4 separate regions of the Homo sapiens genome follow, and regions 1, 2 and 4 are each linked to region 3. The links come from fine-mapping of genetic effects on gene expression. A gene starts in region 3. Each other region holds a variant in brackets. All regions are shown on one strand. Distances are from middle to middle.

Region 1 (5,719 bases), 40 kb after region 3:
ACTTCATATATTAATTTCAGGGTAAAAATACTCATTGTGTATTCAAATTTGTGGGGAGGAGTTCTTTTAAAACAATTTGTGGATTTTATCAAACTAGTAGTTTCTTATGAAAAAGAAATTACAGTCTTTTTTTTTTCCATAGGAATTATGTCACTGCAAGTAACATAGATAGAAATGCCTATATACTTTTATGGTATTTAACATATGTACTATTCCATGATTTTGTTAATAGTAATTTGTATCTGAATCCCTCTTACCTCATAGGTAGACACATAAACAATTAGTAGATAGCTGTTATAACATATATTAAAGTGATAGAAAGCATTATTAGCTATAGTAATTTCTCTAAACAAGTTTAACATTGATTTCTTAAATCCTGTCTAATCTGTACAGGCTTCAGAGTATCAGTTTAATGGTGGTATATCTTCTCAGTCATCTGTGTCTTCTAGCACTACTTCCATGCAGGACTTGGTATAATGTAGATTGGATCTGAACAGCTATTTATTGGACTATATATGCCATACCATTCTTTATAATAAGTAGAAAAAATAAGCATTTAGTTCAAGTTGTTTCCATTCATTGGGAAAATTATTTGGGATGCTATTTACCGCAAAGTGTTGTATATTTCTGTCTTCATTAGCTGAAACAAATACTTGTGAATTTTAACACAAATGATAATGAAATGTGTGTTTCTTGTTAATTTCAGAGTTTTATATGATTCAGATGATATATATTTACCTATAAATAAAAGTCCTTTGTAGAATGGTAAAACATTTAAATCTTATATGGTGACATTGTCATTGCTCTTAAAACAAAGTAGCACTAATTTTCAGATGCCCACATAGCTTTTCGTATCAGAAATATTTGTATATGTGGGCTTATTTTTAGTTCTGACATTTTACAATTTGTGCTTTGTTTACATGCAGCAAGGAGTTATGGGCGAAGACGAGGTAATTCATTTCTGTTTGCTATGGTATAATTGTTTCTAATGGGGTTTACTGATCAATGTTGTAATTAATTACTCTAGATTTTTCATGCAATATCTGAAAACTCACACAATTGTATTTTGATTTGAGCACTTGTCGAAGTTTTTAATTTTAAATCTCCTAACCTTTGAACTGTATTTTTATACTAATTGTGGTTATTTAATAAATTTTCCCCTTTTAAACTGCTGAGATTTAACTCTAGTTTTTAAAGTTACTTCTGTATCTCTTAAAATAAAGCTGCTGTTTATGGTTTGTCTGCTTAAATATGTTTAATATTAGTGAAGTTAGCATGAAGTATGATTTTTCTGCTCTCTAAATGTGTAACTGTCATATTTATGATGTATAATTTACAGCTCTAGATTGTTAGTTTTATGTTGACCCAGTTGAAAATAACACACACCAAATAGATTATTTTTAACAGTGATTTATAGAAATCATGTTGCTTATATTTCTCTGTTTTCTAAGAATATAACCCCTTCTTTCCCTTTCTGTCTCTCACACACACACACAAACACATACCTTCTCCCCTTTCCTTTTTCCTTTCCCTCCCCCACAAAAGTATTCCCCACAGAGTTCTTGTGTGGTATCCTAAGGAAAGAGGACTATGTGATGCAAGACTATTATTGAACTTCCTAGGAAAGTAGCTGATGTTTTCTGTGGCTAAAACTTTGCTTCTCCCTTTTCCATGTGCAGACTAGTAGATGGGATGAGAGGAAGCAAAAGTATGCTACTAGATTGTTCTTTAAATGAGCAATAATCATGATGTTTATATTGTTAGGCTTATTCCAAGTGCCACACCGAATAAAAAGAGTTTTCTTTGACCTCTAAAAATCTCCCTTAAGCCATAGAGGATAGACAGGAATAATAGTGCCCTTTGATCACTTTTTTTTTTTTTTGAGACGGAGTTTCGCTCTTGTTGCCCAGGCTGGAGTGCAGTGGCGCGATCTCGGCTCACCACAACCTCTGCTTCCCGGATTCAAGCAATTCTCCTACCTCATCCTCCCAAGTAGCTGGGATTACAGGCATGTGCCACCACACCCAGCTAAATTTTTTATTTTTAGTAGAGATGGAGTTTCTCCATGTTGGCCCGTCTGGTCTTGAATTCCTGACCTCAGGTGATCTGCCCACCTCGGCCTCCCAAAGTGCTGGGATTACAGGCATGAGCCACCTATAGACATGTGCCAGTGCTTCCATTTCTTTTCAACTAGTCATGAATGTGTGTACTTTTTAAACAACAAACAAGCAAAACCATTTGCCACGACTGACAACCAAAACTAGTATTTTATATTCTTAAGTGGTCCCAATTTTATATTTCAGATTATCTGAATTTAACTTAATTTTTTAATATGGTTTTTTCAAATGCTTGACTGAATCTTTTGGTTCTTCAGTTTTCTAACTAAAAACTTAGAGGAGACAGACACTCAAGACTTAAAAAATTGAAGCTGAACAACTTTTCTAAAAACTTAGCAAGCTGAGAAGGGGGGAGCAGTTTAGAAGTTTAGTACCTATTTTCAAATCTATGGACTAGCTTATTTCACTATGCAATTTTAGTAATGGAGCTTCAGTTCTCTGAAACACAACCCACTTACCA[G/A]TCTGTGATTTTTAGGCATTTTGAAACTATAGAGCAATTCAGAATTCTTGCCTTGTTAAACATTTTTCATCTTTTACCTGTTGTGACTTACATTTAGTCTAATTTCGTATGCTCTCATGTAAATATCATGACCTAAGAAGTTCTTAGGAACAAGGTATTAGGAAGTAATGTTATTATTTGTCTTCATCTCAGTTCAATAATTGTAGATTATGATTATATTAAGAAAAAACAAAATTTTTTTCCCTGCTTTTATATAGGAACCAGCTATCATTCCTATATATCTCTATCCCCCGTAAGCCATAAAGACTTATTCGGCTTCAGAACTGCCTTCCTGCATTGGAAGAAGGAAGACTCTCACATGGTTTTAAGGCTTCTGATAAAAGCTTCCATTACGACAGAACTGATGGTTGGCATACATATTTGGCTTAGCATAAGGGGGAGTGAATGCCTGAATTTTCATCTCAAATTATATGGCCTTAGTAAATTATGAACACTAGCAGTCTACTTTTAAAATTTTGATTGTGAGAGTCACGTGAAAGGCACACTCATTAGAAATAACTACTGAGAGATTTTATCTGAATTTTAAAGTACACTGAAACGGTAAGTAATGCAATTTTTTTAAAACCTGCATACCAAAGGAATGACTCAGAAATGGCTAGTCACCTGGTTTTCTTCCTATTTTTTACTGTTTTTTCCTATTCCATGCTAGGTATAATAAACCTCAGACTGATAACCTTTTAACCACCAAACACCCCCTTTTATATAGCCTCATGTGTTAGATTTGATCCATCAAAGAAACTGCATTTATTTAGTAATTATTTTGTGAAAAATGAGTTGCTTATCTTCTGTTCATGTCGGATGTGTCACACTGAGTTGATATAATTTTTGCTAAAAATAAGTCATGGCTCTTCTACCAGTGCAATAATGGGTGAACAGTTATTTTCACAGGACATTCTGACTTTGACTTTTGTAGTCCTGTTCAGGAAGAACTGTTTTTCTTCTTTCAGCCCAGGCACGAAACTGTTTTCATTTAAAAGATTTCTCACTTGACTACAGTCAAATCAAGTTACTACCAAAATGACTTTATGTACTTGAATTTCTTAATAATGTCAATAAGAACTTTAAATAAAGCTAGCTCCAGATATTAATTTATGAAATATACTTTAGGAATAATCAAAATGTAATTATGCTAGTAGTAGTTAAGAAAAGCAGAGATTTCTGTCCCTGCTTTTTAGTTGGAACCTACTATCACTACTGTGTATCTCTATCCCCTGGTAGCCATAAAGAGTTCTACTTTAGAGCTGCCTAGGGGGCAGCATTAGGAAGGAAAACGGTTCATATGGGGAGCTGACTTTAATATATGGAAAACTACTTATCATTTGTATTTATTTTTTATTCATTGTTTCTTCCATTCCATTCTGAGAGTGAACATACTTGTCCAGGATTGAAGTAGGATGAGGGTTGTGAAGGGAGGCGTGAAGTGTAATTTAAGTTCGATCCTTTCAACTTAAACTATTTCTATAGCACAATAAGTTCCTTTAATAAAGGATTAAAGGGCTACTGTGTTCCAAAAGGAATAAAAATATATAGAATATTTTTAGTAATATAAATAAAAACGTAGTTTAGTTAATGGTTCTAAGACCCGGAAGGCAATCCTTTTAAGCAAGGAAACCCAGAGCTTGAGTTAGTAGATTACATATGGGATGAGAAGATAGGAGAAATAATTTTAAAGGGAGACAAATGATGGAAAGGTTAATTAGAGAAGTTTGATTTATTCATAGTGTATAGTCATTCAGACTTACGTGCTATAATAAATAAGGAATTATTAATAATATAGTATACTGCTTTGAAGTTGATCCAGGATTTTCAATTTGGAACAATTGTGAAGTACCCAGGGTAACTGTACACTCCCTAATAACATCACTGCCAGATATTTTTATGATGAAATCAAGGCTGAAATCCTTGATAAATAACTTCAATAATTGTGAGAGAGTGGGCAAGATCTCTGAAGCATGAAAAAAAAGCTGGGGTAACACTAATACAGGGGTCAGGAAACCATGGCCCGCAGGCCAAGGCTTCTGTTTTTGTAAACAAAGTTTTATTGAAATGCAGCCAGTATTTATTCATTGACTTTTGTCTGGCTGCCTTGAAACTACAATGATAGCACAGTTGAGTAATTCCAACAGAAAATGTCTGGTCTTCAAAATGTAAAATATTATATTTAATACTGACCCTTTAAAGAAAAAAATTTGCTGACCTCCCTTTCCTAACCTTTAAGAGACTGGTAGTGTCTGCTCTACACCTATACCCAGCAATATGAATTTTTATAGAAAACAAATTTTAGTAAACCTAATTTTAAAGCATATATATCTAGAAATTAAATAAAATTTACAAAGACATATAAGGTCATAGATTATAAATTTTTTAAGTAAATTATCTTCTTTATCCTTAATGAGAAAGGTACAAACCTATTGGAGCAAAACATTTTTAAGCCGTTAGTGTGTACATTATGGTGCCTTTCTCAGTTATTTGCAGAATCATACCCGAGTGTATTTGATTAAACAGATAATGCTGAAAATAGATCAATCTGAAATATACTTCTGTTGTTTTGATAGTTTTTTAAATTAATGTTTGGTAACATTAGCATAGCGCCCAGTGTCAGAGTTAGTAACCACCTATAACTTCTCTAACATACATGGATGTGTGCCGCACATACACCTACACACACACGGAGACCAGAGACCATAGGGGATAGCCATTATTCTCGTTTTGCTCTTCCTTCTCTTATTACTTCATTCATCTATAATCTTTATTATAACTACTATTTTGCCTTTAAAATTATACATTTTAGGTAGCAAACTTAATGTAAGCTATTATACTTGCATTTGTAGGTAGGGTTCTTGAACTCATAGTTAAGAATATCTCCTGTTTTCTGTATTTTACCTTAATATGGCCTTTGGAATATTTCTCTGTGCTTTTGGCTAAGCAAATATCTTCTACCGAAGGAAGGCTTTTTCCCTCTACTTCTTTTTCTCCTCTATCCTTTTCTGTCTATAACTATCTCATTCTTTGTAAATCATTCTCTTTTAAAGAACCTTTAATTAGAATCTCACTCCAGCCTGGGTTATAATTAATCTTCTCT
Region 2 (5,719 bases), 87 kb after region 3:
AATCACTTTTTCCTCCTGGGCCTCCAGGCCTGTGATGGGAGACGCTGCCATGAAGGTCTCTGATATGGAGTGGAGACATTTTCCCCATGGTCTTGGGGATTAACATTAGGCTCCTTGCTACTTATGCAAATTTCTGTAGCCAGCTTGAATTTCTCCTCAAAAAAAAAGCAGGGGGTGGGGTTTCTTTTCTACTGCATCATCAGGCTGCAAATTTTCTAAACTTTTATGCTGTTTCCCTCTTAAAATGGCATGCTTTTAACAGCCCCCAAGTCACCTTTTGAATGCTTTGCTGCTTAGAAATTTCTTCTACTAGATACCGTAAATCATCTCTCTCAAGTTCAAAGTTCCACGAATCTCCAGGGCAGGGGAAAAATGCTGCTAGTCTTTTTGCTAAAACATAACAAGAGTTACCTTTGCTCCAGTTCCCAACAAGTTTCTCTTCTCCATCTGAGACCACCTCAGCCTGGACCTTATCAGTGTTTTTGTCAAAGCCATTCAACAAGTCTCTAGGAGATTCCAAATTTTCCACATTTTCCTGTCTTCTTCTGAGCCCTCCAAACTGTTCCAACCTCTGCCTGTTACCCAGTTCCACAGTTGCTTCCACATTTTCAGGTATCTTTTCAGCAATTCCCCACTCTACTGGTACCAATTTATTATATTAGTCTGTTCCACACTGCTGATAAAGACATACCCAAGACTAGGAAGAAAAAGAGGTTTAATTGAACTTACAGCTATACATGGCTGGGGAGCCCACAGAATCTTGGCAATAGGCAAAAGGCACTTTTTATATGGTGGTGGAAAGAGAAAATCAGGAAGAGGCAAAAACAGAAATCCCTGATAAACCCATCAGATCTTGTGAGACTTATTCACTATCACGAGAATAGCAAGGGAAAGACTGACCCCCATGATTCAATTACCTCCCCATGGGTCCCTCCCACAACACATGGGAATTCTGGGAGATAAAATTCAAGTTGAGATTTGGATGAGGACACAGCCAAACCATATCACTATTTTTTATTTTAGCTATTTTGGTAGGTATGTAAAGATATCTCATTCTGGTTTTAATTTACATTTCTGTGATGGCTAATGATGTTGAACATTTTTCTATACATTTTTTTGCCATCTGTTTATCTTTTTTGGTGAAATGTTTCTTCATGTCTTTTGTTCATTTTGTCATTGGATTGCTTATTTTTCTTTACTGTTAAGTTTTGAGAGTTGTTTATGTATATTCTACATAATAGACCTTTATAGGATATATGGTTTGCAAATATTTTCCTCAATTCTGTAACTTGCCTTTTCATCCTCTGAACAGGGTCTTTCAATGAGCAAAAGTTTTTAATTTTAATGAAGTAAAATTGATCAAATTTTCCTTTCTATGGATGGTGCTTTTGGTATCAAGTCTAAAAACTCTTGGTGGAGCCCTAGATCCTGAAGTTTTTTTTTCCTGTTTTTTTGTTTTGTTTTGTTTTTGTTTCTGTTTTTTGTTTTTTATAAGTGATTTATTGTTTTACATTTCACATTTAAGTCTGTGATCTCTTTTGAATTAATTTTTGTACAAAGTTTGAGACTTAGGGTGAGGTCTTTCTCTTTTTCCTTCTTTTCTCCTTCTCCTTTCTTCCAGTGAGTTTCTAACTGGTCTTGTACCATTTTTTGAAAGATGATCCTTCTTCCACAGAATTACTTTTGCACCATTATAAAAATCAATTGGGCATATTTGTGTGTAGATATTTCTAGGTTCTCTATTCTGTTCCATTTATCTGTTTATCCCTCTGCAAATACCTCACTATCCTGTTTATGGTAGCTATATAACTCCTTGAAACCGGACATACAGATTCCTATCTTTTTATCCTCCTTTTCTCAAAATTGTTTCAGCTGTTCTAGTTCATGTCTTTTCAAATACATTTTAGAATAATCTTGTCAGTGTCTACAAAATATCTTGCAGGGATTTTGAGAGAAATTGTGCTATACTTGTATATCAATTTGGGGAGAACTGACATTTTACTGTGCTGTCATCCACTCCATGAACACAATATATGCCTCCCCATATATTTAGATCTTTGATTTCCTTCATCAGCATGCATTCCTTCATCAGCATTTGATTTCCTTCATCACATTTTGCCATTAAAAAAAAAAAATGGCAAAAACCGCAATTACTTTTGCACCAACCTAATAGCTTTTAGTATACAAGTCCTGCACATGTCTTAAATTTAACATAAATATTTATCTTTTTGTATGAATGTTTGTAATAGTATTTTACTTTTTATTTTGGTGTCCATGTGTCAATTGCTAGTATATAGAAATGAAGTTGATCATTGTATGTTTACCTGTGTTCACCTCTATTTTTACCTGTAAGTTACCTTTGTATGTTTACCTTTGTACCCTGCAATTTTGCTGAGCTTGCTTAAAAGTTCTAGAGATTGTTTTGTAGCTTCCCTCGGAATTTTTTACGTGACAGTTATGTCATCTGCAAACGGGACAGTTTAATTTCTTTCTTTCTGATCTGTATGCCTTTTATTTTCTTCCCTCATTGCACTGACTAAAACTTACATAGCATTATGCTGCATGAGTGGTGAGTGTGAACATTCTTGCCTTGTTCTTGATCCTAGAGGAAAACTATTGTTTTTAACTATTAAACATAACTTTAGGTTTTTTTCTAGGTGCTCTTTATCAGGTTGACGAAGTTTCCCTCTATTCCTCTATTCCTTTTTCTGGGAGTTTTTATTATTAATGGGTGTGGAACTTCATCAAGTGCTTTTTCTGCAACAATTTATACGATCCTGTGATTTTCCTCAGTAGACTGTTAATATGGGGATTATTTGATTAATTTTTGAATACTGAAGCAACATTATATCTCTGGAAGGAATCTTTTTTTTTTTTCTTTTTTTTTGAGACGGAGTCTTGCTCTGTCGCCAGGCTAGAGTGCAGTGGCGCCATCTTGGCTCACTGCAACCTCCGCCTCGGGGGTTCAAGCAATTCTCCTGCCTCAGCCTTCCGAGTAGCTGGGATTACAGGCACGCACCACCACGCCCGGCTAATTTTTTGTATTTTAGTAGAGATGGGGTTTCACCATGTTGGCCAGGATGGCCTCGATCTCCTGACCTCGCTATCCATCTGCCTCGGCCTCCGAAAGT[T/G]CTGGGATTACAGGCATAAGCCACCGCGCTGGGCTCCTGGAAGGAATCTTCCTTGGTCATGGTATATAATTTCTTTTATATATTACTGAATTATCTGTAGTATTTTGTTCACGATTTTTACATCTATAATCTTGAGGAATATTGGTCAGCTGTTTTCTTTTTTGCACAGTGTTTGTCTGGTTTTAATATCATGGTAATAGTAGCTTCAGAAATTGAATTGAGAATGTTCCCTCCTCTTCTATTTTCTGGAAGAGATTATGTAGAATTGATGTAACTTCTTTAAACATTTGGTAAAATTCTCCAGGGAAACTTTCTGGGCATGGAGATTTCTTTGGGCATGGAGAGTTTTAAATTACAAATTTAATTTCTTTAATAATTATAAGGCTATTCAAATTATTTATTTCATCTTGGGCAAGTTGTGGTTATTTGTATTTTGAGGAAGTGGTCCCTTTAGTCTAGGTTGTCATATTTACGCAGATAGAATTGGTCATACTGTTTTCTTGTTATCCTTTTGACATTTTCAGGGTATGTAGTGGCATCCCCTTTTTCATTTCTGATATTGGTGATTTCTTCCTTCTTTTTTGCTTTGTCACCCTTGATAGAGATTTGTCAATTTTATTGTTTCTTTTAAAGAATTAGCTTTTTGCTCCATTGATTTTTCTCTATTGTTTTTGTGTTTTCTATTTAATTTCTACTCTAATACTTATTTCCTCCGTTATTCTTGCTTTGAGTTTATTTCTCCCAGTTCATGAGATGAGAGCTTAGATTATTGATCTGAGGCTTTTCCTCTTTTCTAACGAATGAATTTATTGCTATAAAGTTCCCTCTCAGCACTGCTTTAGCTGCATTCCAGAAATTTTGACATGTTGTAAATTGTTTTCATTTGATTTAATGTTTTTTGTTTTGTTTTGTTTTTTAATTCCTTTCAGACTTTTTCTTTGTTCCATGGATCATTTGATTGCTTAGTTTCCAAGTGTTTGAAGATTGTCTTGTTGTTTTTCTGCTATTGATTTTCAGGTTGATTCAATGGTGAATGGAGAACACACTGTAAGATTTCGTCTTTCCAATTTGTTAAGGTTTGTTTTATGGCCCAGGATATGACTTATCTTAGTGTATGTCCTGCTTGCACTTGTCAGCTCTATTTTAAGGATATTAAAAACAAGTATCAACACTCAAGACTCCCTTGCATGGTTCCTGGCTCTTGGCTTGTGGCAGGTTATGTCTTCTTCTGGGCCCACCTGGTTCAGAGCCTGCCTTCCATCTGCATTGTTTGTGTCTCAGTAGCCAGCATTTTTTCAGTCTGTTGTTTTTCTGCAATTTTGTTTTACTCTGAGTCAGCCTACAACCTCACCGAGCTGCCTATCAGCACTGTCTCGGGTATCTGCCTAAGCATCAATTATTGTTTAGATAATTCCACTTACAAAGTCACATAGACTTTAAGTACTCTGCTCCAAGCCTATTATTATCCATAATTTCTGATATTTTTGTTCATGATTTTCACTCTTTTTGCTCCTTTATCACTATTCAGTCATAGTGAACACCAATGTAATCTCCACCCAGGTCACAAAATAAAATATTGCCGGCACCCCCGCCATGCTCCTCCTTTTCAAAGATACCTATTATCCTAACCTCTAAAAGCAAAAGTGTAATTTTAACATTATACAAATGAAATAATATAGGATGTTTGTTTTCTTTCTGATTCCTTTCAATATTGTTTGTGAGAATCATACATATCATATGTAGCTGTGGTCTGTTCATTTTTGTTGTAATAGTATTTCATTGTAAGAAAAAAACCGTATATTTATCTGCTATTTTGCTGATGGGCGTTTGGGTTGCATCCAGTCTGGAGCTATGATGAATAAGGCTGCTATGAACATTCTTACACAGGTCTCCTGGTACACATATACACACATTTCTGTCAAGAATATACTTAGGAATAGGAGTTTTCAGGTAACAGGTGATGCTTATATGCAACCTAAGTTGTTACACTATTTTCCAAAGTCATTGTACCAATTAATATTCCTACTAGCTGGGTATGAAGTTCCCATTGCTTTACAATTCCACCCAGACTTAGTATGTCAGTCTTCTAAATTTTTATCTTTCTGGTAAGCATATGGTGGTAATTTATTTTGATTTAATTTTATATTTCCCTAATGCCTAATGATGAACACCTTTCTGTGTTTATTAGCCATTTTGATATCTTTTTTTGTAGATGCCCTTTTTAAAAAAAGTTTATTGGTCTTTTTCTTATTGTCGAGTAGAAATTCTTTATGTCTTCTAGCTCAAGTCTTTTTTTGTATACATAAATTGCAAATATCTTCTCCCATCTGTGGCTAGGCATTTCATAATATTTCTTGTGTATAAAAGTAGTTAATTTTAATGTATTCCAATTTATCATACTTTTTTATTGTTGTATCTTTTTATGACCTAGTTAGGAAAATTTTAACTCTTCAAAAATCACAAAGATATGAACCTATATAGTGTTCTGAAAGCTTCACTGTTTTAACTTCATTTATTTCACCAATTCACCTGAACATTTTTTATATGGTGCAAGGTAGCAGTAAAGTTTTTTTTTTAAGTGAATATTC
Region 3 (5,719 bases):
TTGAGGTATCTATGAGACACTCAGTCAAATGGGCAAGTCGTTCAGGCAATGTAAAAGCAGAAAAAGAAGGCAGTAGCTAAAGGAGGGAGAATATAAGGTCAAAAGGTTTTGGCTTTACTTTTCAAAGGTGAGAACTAGTAAAGCAAGTTTTTGTGCACATGGAAGTGTTTCCTGGAGAGGAAAGAGGTCATGATGAAGGACAGAGAGAGAAAACTGTTGGAGCCCATGTCTTGAGTAGGTTAGAGGTAGGATCTGCTCCGCCAGTGGAGAGGCTGGCCTTAGACAGGAGTATGGGCAGATGGGCCATCCATTGTATCGAGAGGGAAGGCAAGGTGTGCAGGGACAGATGCAGGGAGACTGTGGAAGTTTTCCTGTGGTTGCTTCTTTTTTCTCAGTGAAATAAGCATGTAGCTCAGCAGCTGAGAGTGCTACATGCTAGCAGATGCATGTAGGAGAGATGTGACAAGAGGTTTTCAGATTGAGCAGAATGTTTGAAATGGTCTAGGACAGTGGTTTTTCAGTTCATAATCTGATAGAGGGTGTTAAAACCAACTTTGTAATTTGAGATCAAACGTGATTTTAAAATGAAAATAGAATTATAAAAAGGAGTTTGTTGCATTATTAAAAGAATTGCTTAATAGCAGCTTTATTTCAGTTGCATGAGTGTGTACTTGCACATATATTGGGTTGTAGCAAAAATACTTTTAAAAATACTTGCCCAGGACAGTGGGAGTAAATGAATAAGGGACTGTCAAATACAAAGTCAAGGTCCTAGTTAATGATCATGAGTCAAAATATTTTCATGTAAAAAACCAAAAAAATCATTGAATGGACTCATAAGATCTTGGCATGGAAACTGCTAGAGGACCATAGTCCCTCCTCAGTATTTGCTGCTCCTTCTCCCTACCCCACTCCACTCTCCACCCTAGGAAACCTTTTCATTTGAATATTTTCAATAAGGGCAAGATCACCAGCTTACAAGATGTCAGAAAGTAACTTTCTGCTCTAAAAAAATGGGGCCCTCACAAAAGTAGTGAGTAGAGGCCCTGGCAGGATTTGGAATTTGGTGTATTTAATATGAAGTTTGACATTATTATGTAATAACAAACTTGATGGCTTTTCCCCGTTTCAGAGAGCTCTAAATCCTCTAAGACAAAACTAGTACCAGAGCACTAAGAAATCTTGTTTTTGTTCAAAACTCTAGCCCAGAAAGGCACCAGTTAGCTTTTAAAAGTATGTGCTCTCTCCTCTTTACTAACTGCGGTGTTAGTGGATAATTGAGCTAAGGTTTATACCTGTATTTTCCCCCTATTTCAAGATTTGTTGTTGGATCTGCAAATGATTCCAATCAAATACAACTGTACTTGGAAAAAAATCATCCGTTGTTAAGACTTTACATTCCTTAGTTGCAGAAGTAGTTTTTTTTCCTGCACAATACCTTTTAAAAAATGAATATTTAATATGTCAATATATACTCTGAAAATAACCATTTATATTTTAAATTCTGAGCTCAGGTTATTTTCTAGACATTGTAATTTAGAATAAAAATACTTCTCCAGTTCTACATTTTGCCTGACTGTTAAAAATGATTTTGAGATTAATAAGTTGAACCAATTTTCTATTCACCTGACCAAATTCTGAACCATTTGAGTTTTTTAAAAAGTACTTTTTCCTTATTGTAAAGGCAACATAAAACTTGGTTCATTGGACAGGATAGCAGAGATAAACATTATACATGAAGTATAGTTCCCTGGGGCAATGTTGCTCTCTTTCTACCATGTTTATTTCGATTTATATAAATTTGAGACACTGAACAGAAGTAGAATTCAAATAGAGAATGAGGACTTATAAAAATGTACACTCTGCCTACATCAGTAAGAGTATGCTAATTTATAAAATTAAATATTTAATCTTAGTTCACTTGTAAACCAAAATCAAGTAAAGTCTGAATCCACCTTCTATTGCTTTGGGGGTTTGAGTCTATATTCTAGGATTCATTTAATAGTTTCATTTCTCTAAGCATCAAGCAAAACAGTTAAAATTACAAAACAGAAACATAAAGTTCACCTCATCATGTAGTATGGATCACTCTGTTATTCTTTATCTAGACCTTCAAATACTTTATGTAAAATGTTTCTATACAAAAGGAAACACAGGATTAGTTCCTCCTCTAATGCTTCTAAAGAGCTCTACCATGGAAAGCTCTCTCCCTTCCATTTTGCAAGTCTCAACAAGTCTGCTGCTGAGTCAGAACCTCCTTTTTTCCCTGATGTAAGAACTATTTCTCCCTTGAAAATTCATAAAGCTTAGGAATAAATTAGAGTCTCCCTGGGGGGAAGGGGCGGGGACGCCGGAATGAATGTGGTGGGGAGGAGTCCCACGCTGCAGCCCTGATGGCACACGAAAGGCTTTTATGAAGCGGAGCTGGCCCGGGGTTACTATGGGAGCTCGCCGTGGAACCCGTTCCACGCATCCGAGTGTGTAAATAACCACGCGGAGCGTGTTTGTTCCAGGGACTTTGTTCCTTCTTACCCAAGTGAAAATGCCTGGAATATAGCCGAGGCTTCATGTTTACCCTACAGAAACACCCTCGGCGGCTCTACGACGTCGGTGACAGCACTCCTACCAGCGCCTAAAAACAGAAACAAGCTTAGAGGGCGCTACCTAGGGCTACAAGGAGGCCCTAGATCGGGGACTCGGGGTCTAGAGGTGCGCGGCGAGGCGCTCAGCGGACTTCAAGCCGGCAGAGCCCAGACGCTAGTTCACCACAGGACCCCCGGGCTGGGCCGGGCTCCCGCGTTGCGCTGGGGGCCCCTCGGGCGCCTATTTCTACGCGGGTCGCACAGTGCAGGCGCCGGTCGGGGTCCCGGGCCTCAGTTTCCCCCGCGGGCCAGCCCCGCTCTGGGAAGCCCGAGTGGTGCAGCAGGGCTTCTCCCCACCCAGGGCGGAACCGAGGTGACAGGAAGGAGGAGGCACCGCGAGGGGCGGAGACGCGTGCGACCCAGGCAGACTCTGCGCGGATCCCGCGCCAAGGAGGGGCCGTTGCCCAGGAACCGTCCCTCCCTCCCGCGCGTGCTTGCCCTCGTGCGCGCGCCCGCCCAATGCTCCCGACCACTGTTTGCCAGCCGACCCCCACCCCAACCGGCCTGTCCATTTCCCCGGGAGCGGAGAGACCCAACGGGACACGCCGCTCGCTCCCGCCCTCCCGGGAGCGCGAGCGCGCCCTCGGCTGCGTCTGCATAGTAATGAGGGGCGGGGAGGGGCGACGGGGACGCGGTGGCCTCGCGCCCGCGCGTGCCGGGACGCACCGCGGGGGGCGGCGCGATTGTGAGGTGGCGCTGACGCACGTTCCGGGGTTCTTAAGCGGCCAGGGCGGCTACGGCGACTGCGACGGCGGCGGCGGCGGCGATCGCCGCGAGGGGTGGTGGGGCCGAAGTCGGTGCCCCCTGGCTCAGTCACGGTGTCCCTCTCTCACTGACTCCCCCTCCTTCCACCACGGCCGCGCAACCCCAGCGCCGGCGGCTTCCTAGGTGGGGCAGGGGACGAGGAGCGTCTCCTCCCGCTGCCGGCGGCCTGATAAATGAGGGATTTCGGGTTTGGGGTGCTGCAGACCGCCCCGCTCCGAAGTAGCAGTCCTGGGCCCCTGTTCTGCGGCGAGGCGTATGGTCCTTACGCCGTGGGGTCCGTCAACCCGCTGCCCTCCGCCACGCCCTTCGGCCCACTGTCGCCACCACCGTTGCCTGTCACCGGCTTCTTAGAGGCCGCCTCCCCCTTCTCCGTCCCCCTCGGCGGCGGCGCGGGCAGCCCGGCCGCCGCCGCTTCCTCTTCCTCCCCGTTCCTGGCGCATCAGCAGACCATGCAGGATGAGCTGCTTCTGGGGCTGACACAGCAGCCGGCGCGGCCGCTTTCGGGGGCGGCGGCCACGGAGAAACTCCCCGACCACCACCCCGGCGGCGGCACGATCGCGGGTGTGACCCACCTCCTCCCCTCCCAGGACTTCAAACCGAGTCTGCACCACCCCTCCTCCTCCTCCGCCTCCTCCTGCTGCTGCTGCCGCACCTCCTCCCCGCAGGACTTCAGTAAGCGGCAGCAGCAGCAGCTGAGCAGCCAGAAGAGGAAAGAGTTCAGCCCTCCCCACCTTCCCCACCCTCCGGACTCGAAGCCGCCGCCGCCGCCTCCGCCGCTCCACTGCCCCGGTCGGTTCAGCCCGCCGCCGCCGCCAGCCGGCCCGCTCCTCCAGCCGGCGCAGCTCGCTCAGCGCCAGCAGCAACAGCCGCCGCAGCAGTTCAGCCTCCTGCATCAGCAGCACCTCTCGCCGCAGGACTTCGCCCCGCGGCAGCGTCCGGCAGACCTGCCCCCGCTCCCGCAGCTCCCTCCCTCGCCGCCTGCAGCCCCGCGGCGCCGCCACGGAGGCGCGGGCAGCCCTCGCAAGACCCCAGCCGCGGGCGAGGGCAGCGCCGCCGAGTCCCCCAATGCGGGCTTGGCCTCCTCGACGCCGGTGAACCCCGCGCCGGGCTCCATGGAGTCCCCCAACCACCCTCTGCTCAACAGTCCCAGTAACCTCCTGCCCGGAGGTGCGCTTGGCGCGGGCGCCTTCAGCAGCCTGCAGAGCCCGGACCTTCCACACCCGGGCGGCGGCGGCGGCGGCGGGGGCGGGGGGCCCCCAGGAGGCGGAGGGGGAGGCGGCTCCGCGTCGCCGCCGCCGCTGCCCGGCTTCGGCACCCCCTGGTCGGTGCAGACCGCGTCGCCGCCACCCCAGCCCCAGCAGCCGCCGCCGACCCAGCCGCAGCAGCAGCCGCCGCCACCCCAGCAGCCGCCCCAGCCGCAGCCGCAGCCGCCCGGCTCGTCTGCCACCACCCCGGGCGGCGGCAGCGGCGGCTCGCTCAGCGCCATGCCGCCGCCCAGCCCCGACTCAGAGAACGGCTTCTACCCCGGGCTGCCGTCGTCCATGAACCCGGCCTTCTTCCCTAGCTTCTCGCCCGTGTCGCCGCACGGCTGCACTGGGCTCAGCGTTCCGACGAGCGGCGGCGGCGGCGGCGGCTTCGGCGGCCCCTTCTCGGCTACCGCTGTGCCCCCTCCGCCGCCGCCCGCCATGAATATACCTCAACAGCAGCCCCCGCCGCCCGCGGCGCCGCAGCAGCCGCAGAGCCGGAGGTCGCCCGTCAGCCCGCAGCTCCAGCAGCAGCACCAGGCGGCGGCCGCCGCCTTCCTGCAGCAGAGGAACTCCTATAACCACCACCAGGTACGGCGGGCGGCGGCCTGGCCGCGCCGCGGGACCGGGAGACCATGGGCGGGGGACGGAGGCGGGGGCAGGGCAGCCGGGGACCCGACCTTAGCCCCGAGAGAAGCCGCGACGGGGGCCACTCGCCCAAGTGAGAGTGGAACTGAGGGCGGACAACCGTGACAGGACTCGGAACCCCAGCCCCCGGTGGGTTGGGAGGGCAGTGGCCACCGTGGGCTGTGGGGGCGTGGGAGACGAGTTCGCGCTGGGAGCCGCGGCTGGCCGGGCGCCCCCTCGAACGTCCCGGCGCAGCAGTGGGGACTGGGGCAGGGGCCGAATAGCGCCGGGGCCGCGGGCGGCCGGGCGCGGCGTCTCAACCCGGCCCTCCTAGCTGGCGCACCCCGGGATCCGCCCTGTGCCCTGGGCCTGGAGGGCCGCCGCCCCGGACCCCCGACGCGGGGAGGCGCGGCGAGGACCGGGGGCTGGCCGGGGGCCTCG
Region 4 (5,719 bases), 54 kb after region 3:
TGGTTTTGATCTCCTGACCTCATGATCCGCCCACTTTAGCCTCCCAAAGTGCTGGGATTACAGGCATGAGCCACCATACCCGGCCAAAAGTTTAATTTCTTTAAGGATAAATGTGCTCTTAGAAACAGGGAAGAAAGAGGCTATTAAACCCGAAAGGGAAATGGAAACAGAACATGAATAGGAAATTAGGGTTTCACAAACACTAGTAATTGTATGTGATAACAAAAGAAAATTAATTGAAGACTTAAAATATTAAGCTATATTTGTGAGGTTATGGGAAATGTATCACTCATTCTTACATTTTAGGAAATTTTTTAGTTATGATTCAGATATCCACAAACTTAATTCTAAGTATTGATCTTCATAAGCTTTCTATGTAATGAAATAACGTAAGACATAGCAATTGGATGTAACCTATGTGGATTTCAGTGAAACTACCAGGCATGTATCAGACCCTTGTATATTTTTTCAACATTGTAGTTATTCAAGTCTTGTTTTAGCAGACCTTTTTTCCTATAATAAAATGATTTTATTTGTGAAGCAGTAATAGATTTTATTTATATATGTTGGCATTTTTTTCAATCCAGTGCTATTTGTGGTTTGGTGTACTATAAAGTCATTAGTATCCATACAATGTTATATAAAATTTTAAAATTCACATGGAATTGAGTATTCTAACCAATGCATTGCTTAAAAGTGAATTTATTTTGACAAAAATTGTTAATCTTGACATATTATTTTAATAAGTATATTAGACATATTCCCAGTGTTTATATTCTAATTTATCTTAAGGTATTTGGCACTTTTAAATGTTAAATCTTCATAGTAACAGTACAGAATTTCTTAGAACGAATCACTGAAACTAATTTCTAATGTGTATTATTGTACTTTCTTAAGATGAAATAACTGCTAGCTTCAGAAGATTTGGGCCTTTGGTAGTAGATTGGCCTCATAAAGCAGAAAGCAAGTCCTATTTTCCACCAAAAGGTAAGGATTGTTATTGTTAATATTTGCTAGGAAATTGGTTGTATGAGAGCAAAAGAAAGAATAGCAATTACTTAGCCAGTTAGGAATCATAAGAGACTTGCTATGATTTGATAATTTCATAGACTCAGATCAACAAATGTTTGAGTATTTTCTCTGTCTAAAGCATCATTTCAAGTAACTTGGGTATAGACATATGAAACAATATCTCTCTGCATTATGAAATTAAGATCTATGTGAAGTGATTGGTCTTTCATAAAATATAAATTTATGAACAGTTGAAATATCAGATTTACATTAAATGTTCTAGATAACAGCAGAGCAGTAGAAATTATTACCAACTGTTGATGAATAAATAATTTAGATAAAAGACAAAGTAGCTAGTTGGGTCTATTTTTTTTTTCAATTATATAAAGATGTAAAACTTGAGGAAGATGCTTAGTTATGTTAGTCAGTTATTGCTAGGAAGACACCGTGGCTGATCACCACAGGACAAGAATTACAAATTGTGCTAACCTTCACATGCAAGTCGCATGATCAAGTCACCATCTGTGGGGAGAGGAAGTATATCCTGCCCCCAATAACAAGAGGAAGAGAGGAGAAAGGAGTCTTGAACATTAATTCAGCTAGTCAGAATTGCTAATGGAAGGTTCTCTGAAATGAATAAAAAAAAGAGGGGAGGTTCAAAGATTAAGACTTTACTTTAAACATTGCTGAAATATAATTTTAGAAAAAGCACACCACACATACTATTCAGTTTCATGACTTAGTGAATTGTCAAGCCTGGAGAAAAGACCCCAATAGAACTGTTAAATGGTTTGATTTTGACTCTGGGAAATGAAGCATGATAAAGAAGTTATTAGCACATAAAAACTAGGTACAGGTTTCTGGTGATGAATTATATGAGTCATATCTACTTTCTGCCATTGAGAATTATAGAACCTTCACTAATAGTTCACATAGTTTTTTAGATAAATGGAGTAATGCAATGTTTTTTTAATACTTGCAGATTCTATATGTATGTAGGGAATCAAGAGCATCTTTTGAGTAGGGATTCTGGATCCCAGGCCTCTATGAGAATCTGATTAAAGCTATCTACCTCTCTCCATGTAGTCTGGAGTTCATTGGAGGTCACAAAACCTTGGTATAGACAGGAAATTATCTCCACATAGATAGAGATGTTTATTTATTAGCTTAGTTTTAGTGTTGTCCATAGTTTTACTCTCTTGCCATTTCATAAAGTTTACTTTATAAATGCCATTTTTATTGAATACTCAAGAGTATTGAGTTATTTTGTAATGTTCCCGACTAAGCTACCATCATCACTTGCCTGGACTGCTTCAGCTGTCTTTCTAGTCTCTCCACATCTCTAGCCCTCTTCAGTTTTCTCCTATCGTCCAGTCACAGCAGTCTTTGAAAACTCATTGGATGGTGCTATTCCTTACTTACCTGCATAAACCCTTTAATGGTTTCTCTTATTTTTAGGATAAAAGCAAAAATGCATTCCTTCTGCCTGGCCTTGCCTTCTTTCTAGCTTCTTCTACTATTGCTGCTTGTTTCCTTCCAGTCCCACAAACTGGCCTTGTTCTCTCCAGCCTCAGTGCTTTTATGTATGATACTCTCTAGACTGATTGTATCTCTTCCTTAGGTCTCTTTATATATTCCCTACTTATCTTTTGTATCTCAAGCTTAAGTGTAAGTTGATCACAGAAAACATTGAGGATCTACCAAATGAGGTCAGTTCCTCCTGCCCAACTCCTAGTGCTGTCTGTGTCTTTCACTCCTAGCACTCATCACAGTTGCAGTATTACATTTTTACAACTTTAAACATTTGTAATTATTTTATTAATGTCAGTTTCTTTCAATGGTCTGTAAAATAGTGTCTTTATTCACCTTTGTGAATGTTCATATTCTCAATAATTCACGGATTGTTAACTGCCTAATAAATGAGATAACAAAAAATACTATAGGGTGGAGAAATTACTTCAAGTAGATGGGGGAAAGCTTCACTGAGAGGTTTGGAATTAATCTAAGGTATTGTATATAGATAGATAAAAAGCACTTGAACAGCGTTCCAGGCAGGAATGGAAATAGAATTTTAAAAAGGAATTAGAAATTGTTTGGATGGAGAAAGATGCAGATTTTTGCATGAGCTACTTGTTCACTTACAAGGATGGTGTACTTTAAGCCTAGAAAGATGGGATGGAACATATTTAATGAAACAGAATAGTTGTTGTCTTTATTGGTATTGTTGCTATCGTTATTGTGGTTTTGCAGTATTTAGTTTCTCTAATCGAAAAAATAAAATTGGCACTGGCAAATCATAGTTTTTTTGGTACAATTACAGTTAAATGTAGACATTTCCAAAGACCAGTATCCCCAAACCTTGTTCTTTCAAGCAATTTT[A/G]TTATTTCTGTAATTCAGCATTTTCCATGGTTTGGAAAACACTGGTATAGAAGCATCCAGTGGGTGAAGCTACCTTGTAATTACAGCAGTGACTAGAGTCCCTTAGATGCTAAGCCACACATGTACGTAAGTTTCCTTTGCAGTGAATAACCTTCACCTTAAGTGATTATTAGCTTGCTTTAACAAATTCGAAAGAAGCTATTATGTAGTATGTTTTTGTTAAGAATATTTTAATATCTAATGACTTGCATCAGGTAAGTCATAATTTACCTGATATGGCTTAATTTTTGTAATATAAACATTCCCTAATAATAACAAAAATTGAGCAATATTAAAGATATTGAATTTAGAGTATTACTTTAAATTAAGCAATATTAAAATATTAATATCAAAAATTATGAAAATTGGCCAACATTAAAATATTGAATTTAATATACTATTTTAGTAAATTGGTCTTATATCCTTTTAATTATTACAAAATACTTGTAGTTCCCAGATTATTATTTTGTATCAAAATTAAAGCCTTAAAAAAATCTTCATTATTTTCAAGAATATTGAAATTGTTTCCAGCAGTGTAAAAAATCTAAGACATGTTTTTTAATCCTGTGTAATCTTACCTTTGGAAGTTTGTATTTATATAGGGTGAAATCATTTATATAAGGTGAAATGGCTCCAGGTATTTTTTATGCAAACAGGTATTTTTATTTTATTAAAATGAAGTACTTTAGTGTCACATCAGACTTTTGTGGCATAAAGCTATGGTTGACAATAAGCTGAGTTTTCTGACTTCAGTAAAACATGACCTTACATTTCCCATTATACGATGGAACAGACATACATGGCTTGCCTGATGTCTGCTTTGTACTGGGACTAGATTAAAATGCTGTACATTTGTTCGCATAGAAATCTTGCCAAGGTAATGGATAGATCATTTATAGCTATCACCTGCTGGGAATAATCACATAATAGTAAACTTGCAGTGTAAATTTTGATGCCTTCTTTTTATAATGTAGTCTATTCTGTCTGCTGGATACATGATTTTTTATTAAAGATTGACAATTGGTTGTTTACAAGTCTAGATAGTCTCCAGACAGTTTGAAAAATGTATTCCACTGCTTTCCAAGTTGAGGCTTGATTTAAAAGTTTTGATCCATCTGACCCATGTTTTATTAAGGAACATGTTTCATTCCAGCCTTCCTACTGTAGCTTTCTTAGTATCATTGGGAAGTTTTCATGAGACTGTGGAATGTTTCCTCTGCTTAGGGGATTTCCTGGACCTTTCCAAGTGCGTTCCAGTCTAAAAGTCTAGAACTTGGATTAACCTGAGGGCATTTATAGCAAACTCTAGCTCCAGATATACTCACCTGGTTAATTCTGCCAAGCTCTTTAAGAAGGTAGTATCACTACTAGAAAGCGCATGGGAGACCTTGGGGCTGACCTCGGTTTGAAATTATTCAACCATTTACTATGAGACTGACTTTGGTGGTACTTTGATTTTTTTCTTCTGTAAAACAGGAATAATATTTCATAGACTTTTGAGAATCAAATACTAATGCATGTAAGTTAATACAGTATCTGATAGCAAGTGTTCTATATAAAGTAGCCAATTGCTTTACTGAGTATCTGTTTTAATGTGTATTACATAAGATATTGTGTTCTCTTGTAGAAGGTAAATGGTTTTTCATCCTATTTGATAGTTTGTTTTTTTTTTTCAAAAGCATGTATTTTCTAAATAGTACTGAAATTTGGAGTAAAATCACTTGGCTTGACATATTGCCTCATCTTTAATGGTTATTCCAGGCTATGCATTTCTTCTCTTTCAAGAAGAGAGCTCAGTTCAGGCACTCATTGATGCTTGTATTGAAGAAGATGGAAAACTCTATCTGTGTGTTTCTAGCCCTACTATCAAGGACAAACCAGTAAGTAAATACCACATGAACTTCAGGCTACAAATGCAAATTTTTCAAAAATTGTTTTGAAATGATTGTTAATTAATAAAAGAACAATTAAACTACCATGTTGAGTTTTAGTTTTTGAAACATCCAGATAATTTATAGCAGGAGTCCCCAACCCCTGGGCAGTGGACCAGTACTGGTGGTCCATGATCTTTTAGGAACCAGGCCACACAGCAGGAGATGAGTGGCAGGCAAGCCAGCATTACTGCCTGAGCTCTGCCTCCTGTCAGATCAGAGATGGCACTCTATTCTCATAGGAATGCGAACCCTATTGTGAACTGCACGTGCGAGTGATCTAGGTTGCATGTTCTTTATGAGAATCTAATGCCTGATGATCTGAGGTGGAACACTTTGATCTCGAAACCATCCTCCAC

Direction of the effects. Positions count from the first base shown, and alleles are read on the strand shown. Sizes are in standard deviations (SD) of each study's normalised expression. Not every link is listed here.
For the expression in esophagus mucosa of the gene that starts at base 3,388 in region 3, allele A in region 1 goes with a higher level than allele G (small effect, 0.31 SD a copy in GTEx).
With allele G in place of T in region 2, the expression in monocytes of the gene that starts at base 3,388 in region 3 is higher (small effect, 0.37 SD a copy in Quach 2016).

The links. PIP is the estimated chance that this variant, and not a neighbour inherited with it, causes the effect. A credible set is the group of variants that fine-mapping cannot tell apart.
Region 1: its variant is the best candidate, but not a certain one, in a credible set for the expression of CPEB2 in esophagus mucosa (GTEx, PIP 0.76).
Region 2: its variant is the best candidate, but not a certain one, in a credible set for the expression of CPEB2 in monocytes (Quach 2016, PIP 0.81).
Region 4: its variant is the best candidate, but not a certain one, in a credible set for the expression of CPEB2 in whole blood (TOPMed, PIP 0.83).

The regions. Positions count from the first base shown.
Region 1 is chr4:15,039,538-15,045,256 of GRCh38, forward strand. CPEB2 (cytoplasmic polyadenylation element binding protein 2) reads left to right here. Exons shown (of 12, transcript NM_001177382.2): 6 at 927-950. The region is part of intron 2 of C1QTNF7-AS1 (C1QTNF7 antisense RNA 1); the gene reads right to left. Among named protein-coding and RNA genes, the nearest start is that of CPEB2, 40 kb to the left of the region's middle. The variant G/A (reference allele first, on the strand shown) is at 2,578.
Region 2 is chr4:15,086,446-15,092,164 of GRCh38, forward strand. The region is part of intron 2 of C1QTNF7-AS1 (C1QTNF7 antisense RNA 1); the gene reads right to left. Among named protein-coding and RNA genes, the nearest start is that of CPEB2, 87 kb to the left of the region's middle. The variant T/G (reference allele first, on the strand shown) is at 3,132.
Region 3 is chr4:14,999,094-15,004,812 of GRCh38, forward strand. CPEB2 (cytoplasmic polyadenylation element binding protein 2) reads left to right here and starts at 3,388. Exons shown (of 12, transcript NM_001177382.2): 1 at 3,388-5,242. The coding sequence starts at 3,581. CPEB2-DT (CPEB2 divergent transcript) reads right to left here and starts at 2,952. Exons shown (of 8, transcript NR_038857.1): 1 at 2,845-2,952; 2 at 2,533-2,632; 3 at 2,068-2,136. RefSeq lists enhancers at 2,377-2,426, 5,268-5,719 and silencers at 2,667-3,526, 4,027-4,336, 4,387-4,536, 4,637-4,846, 5,227-5,719.
Region 4 is chr4:15,053,231-15,058,949 of GRCh38, forward strand. CPEB2 (cytoplasmic polyadenylation element binding protein 2) reads left to right here. Exons shown (of 12, transcript NM_001177382.2): 8 at 898-987; 9 at 5,191-5,309. All of the region lies in intron 2 of C1QTNF7-AS1 (C1QTNF7 antisense RNA 1), which reads right to left. Among named protein-coding and RNA genes, the nearest start is that of CPEB2, 54 kb to the left of the region's middle. The variant A/G (reference allele first, on the strand shown) is at 3,391.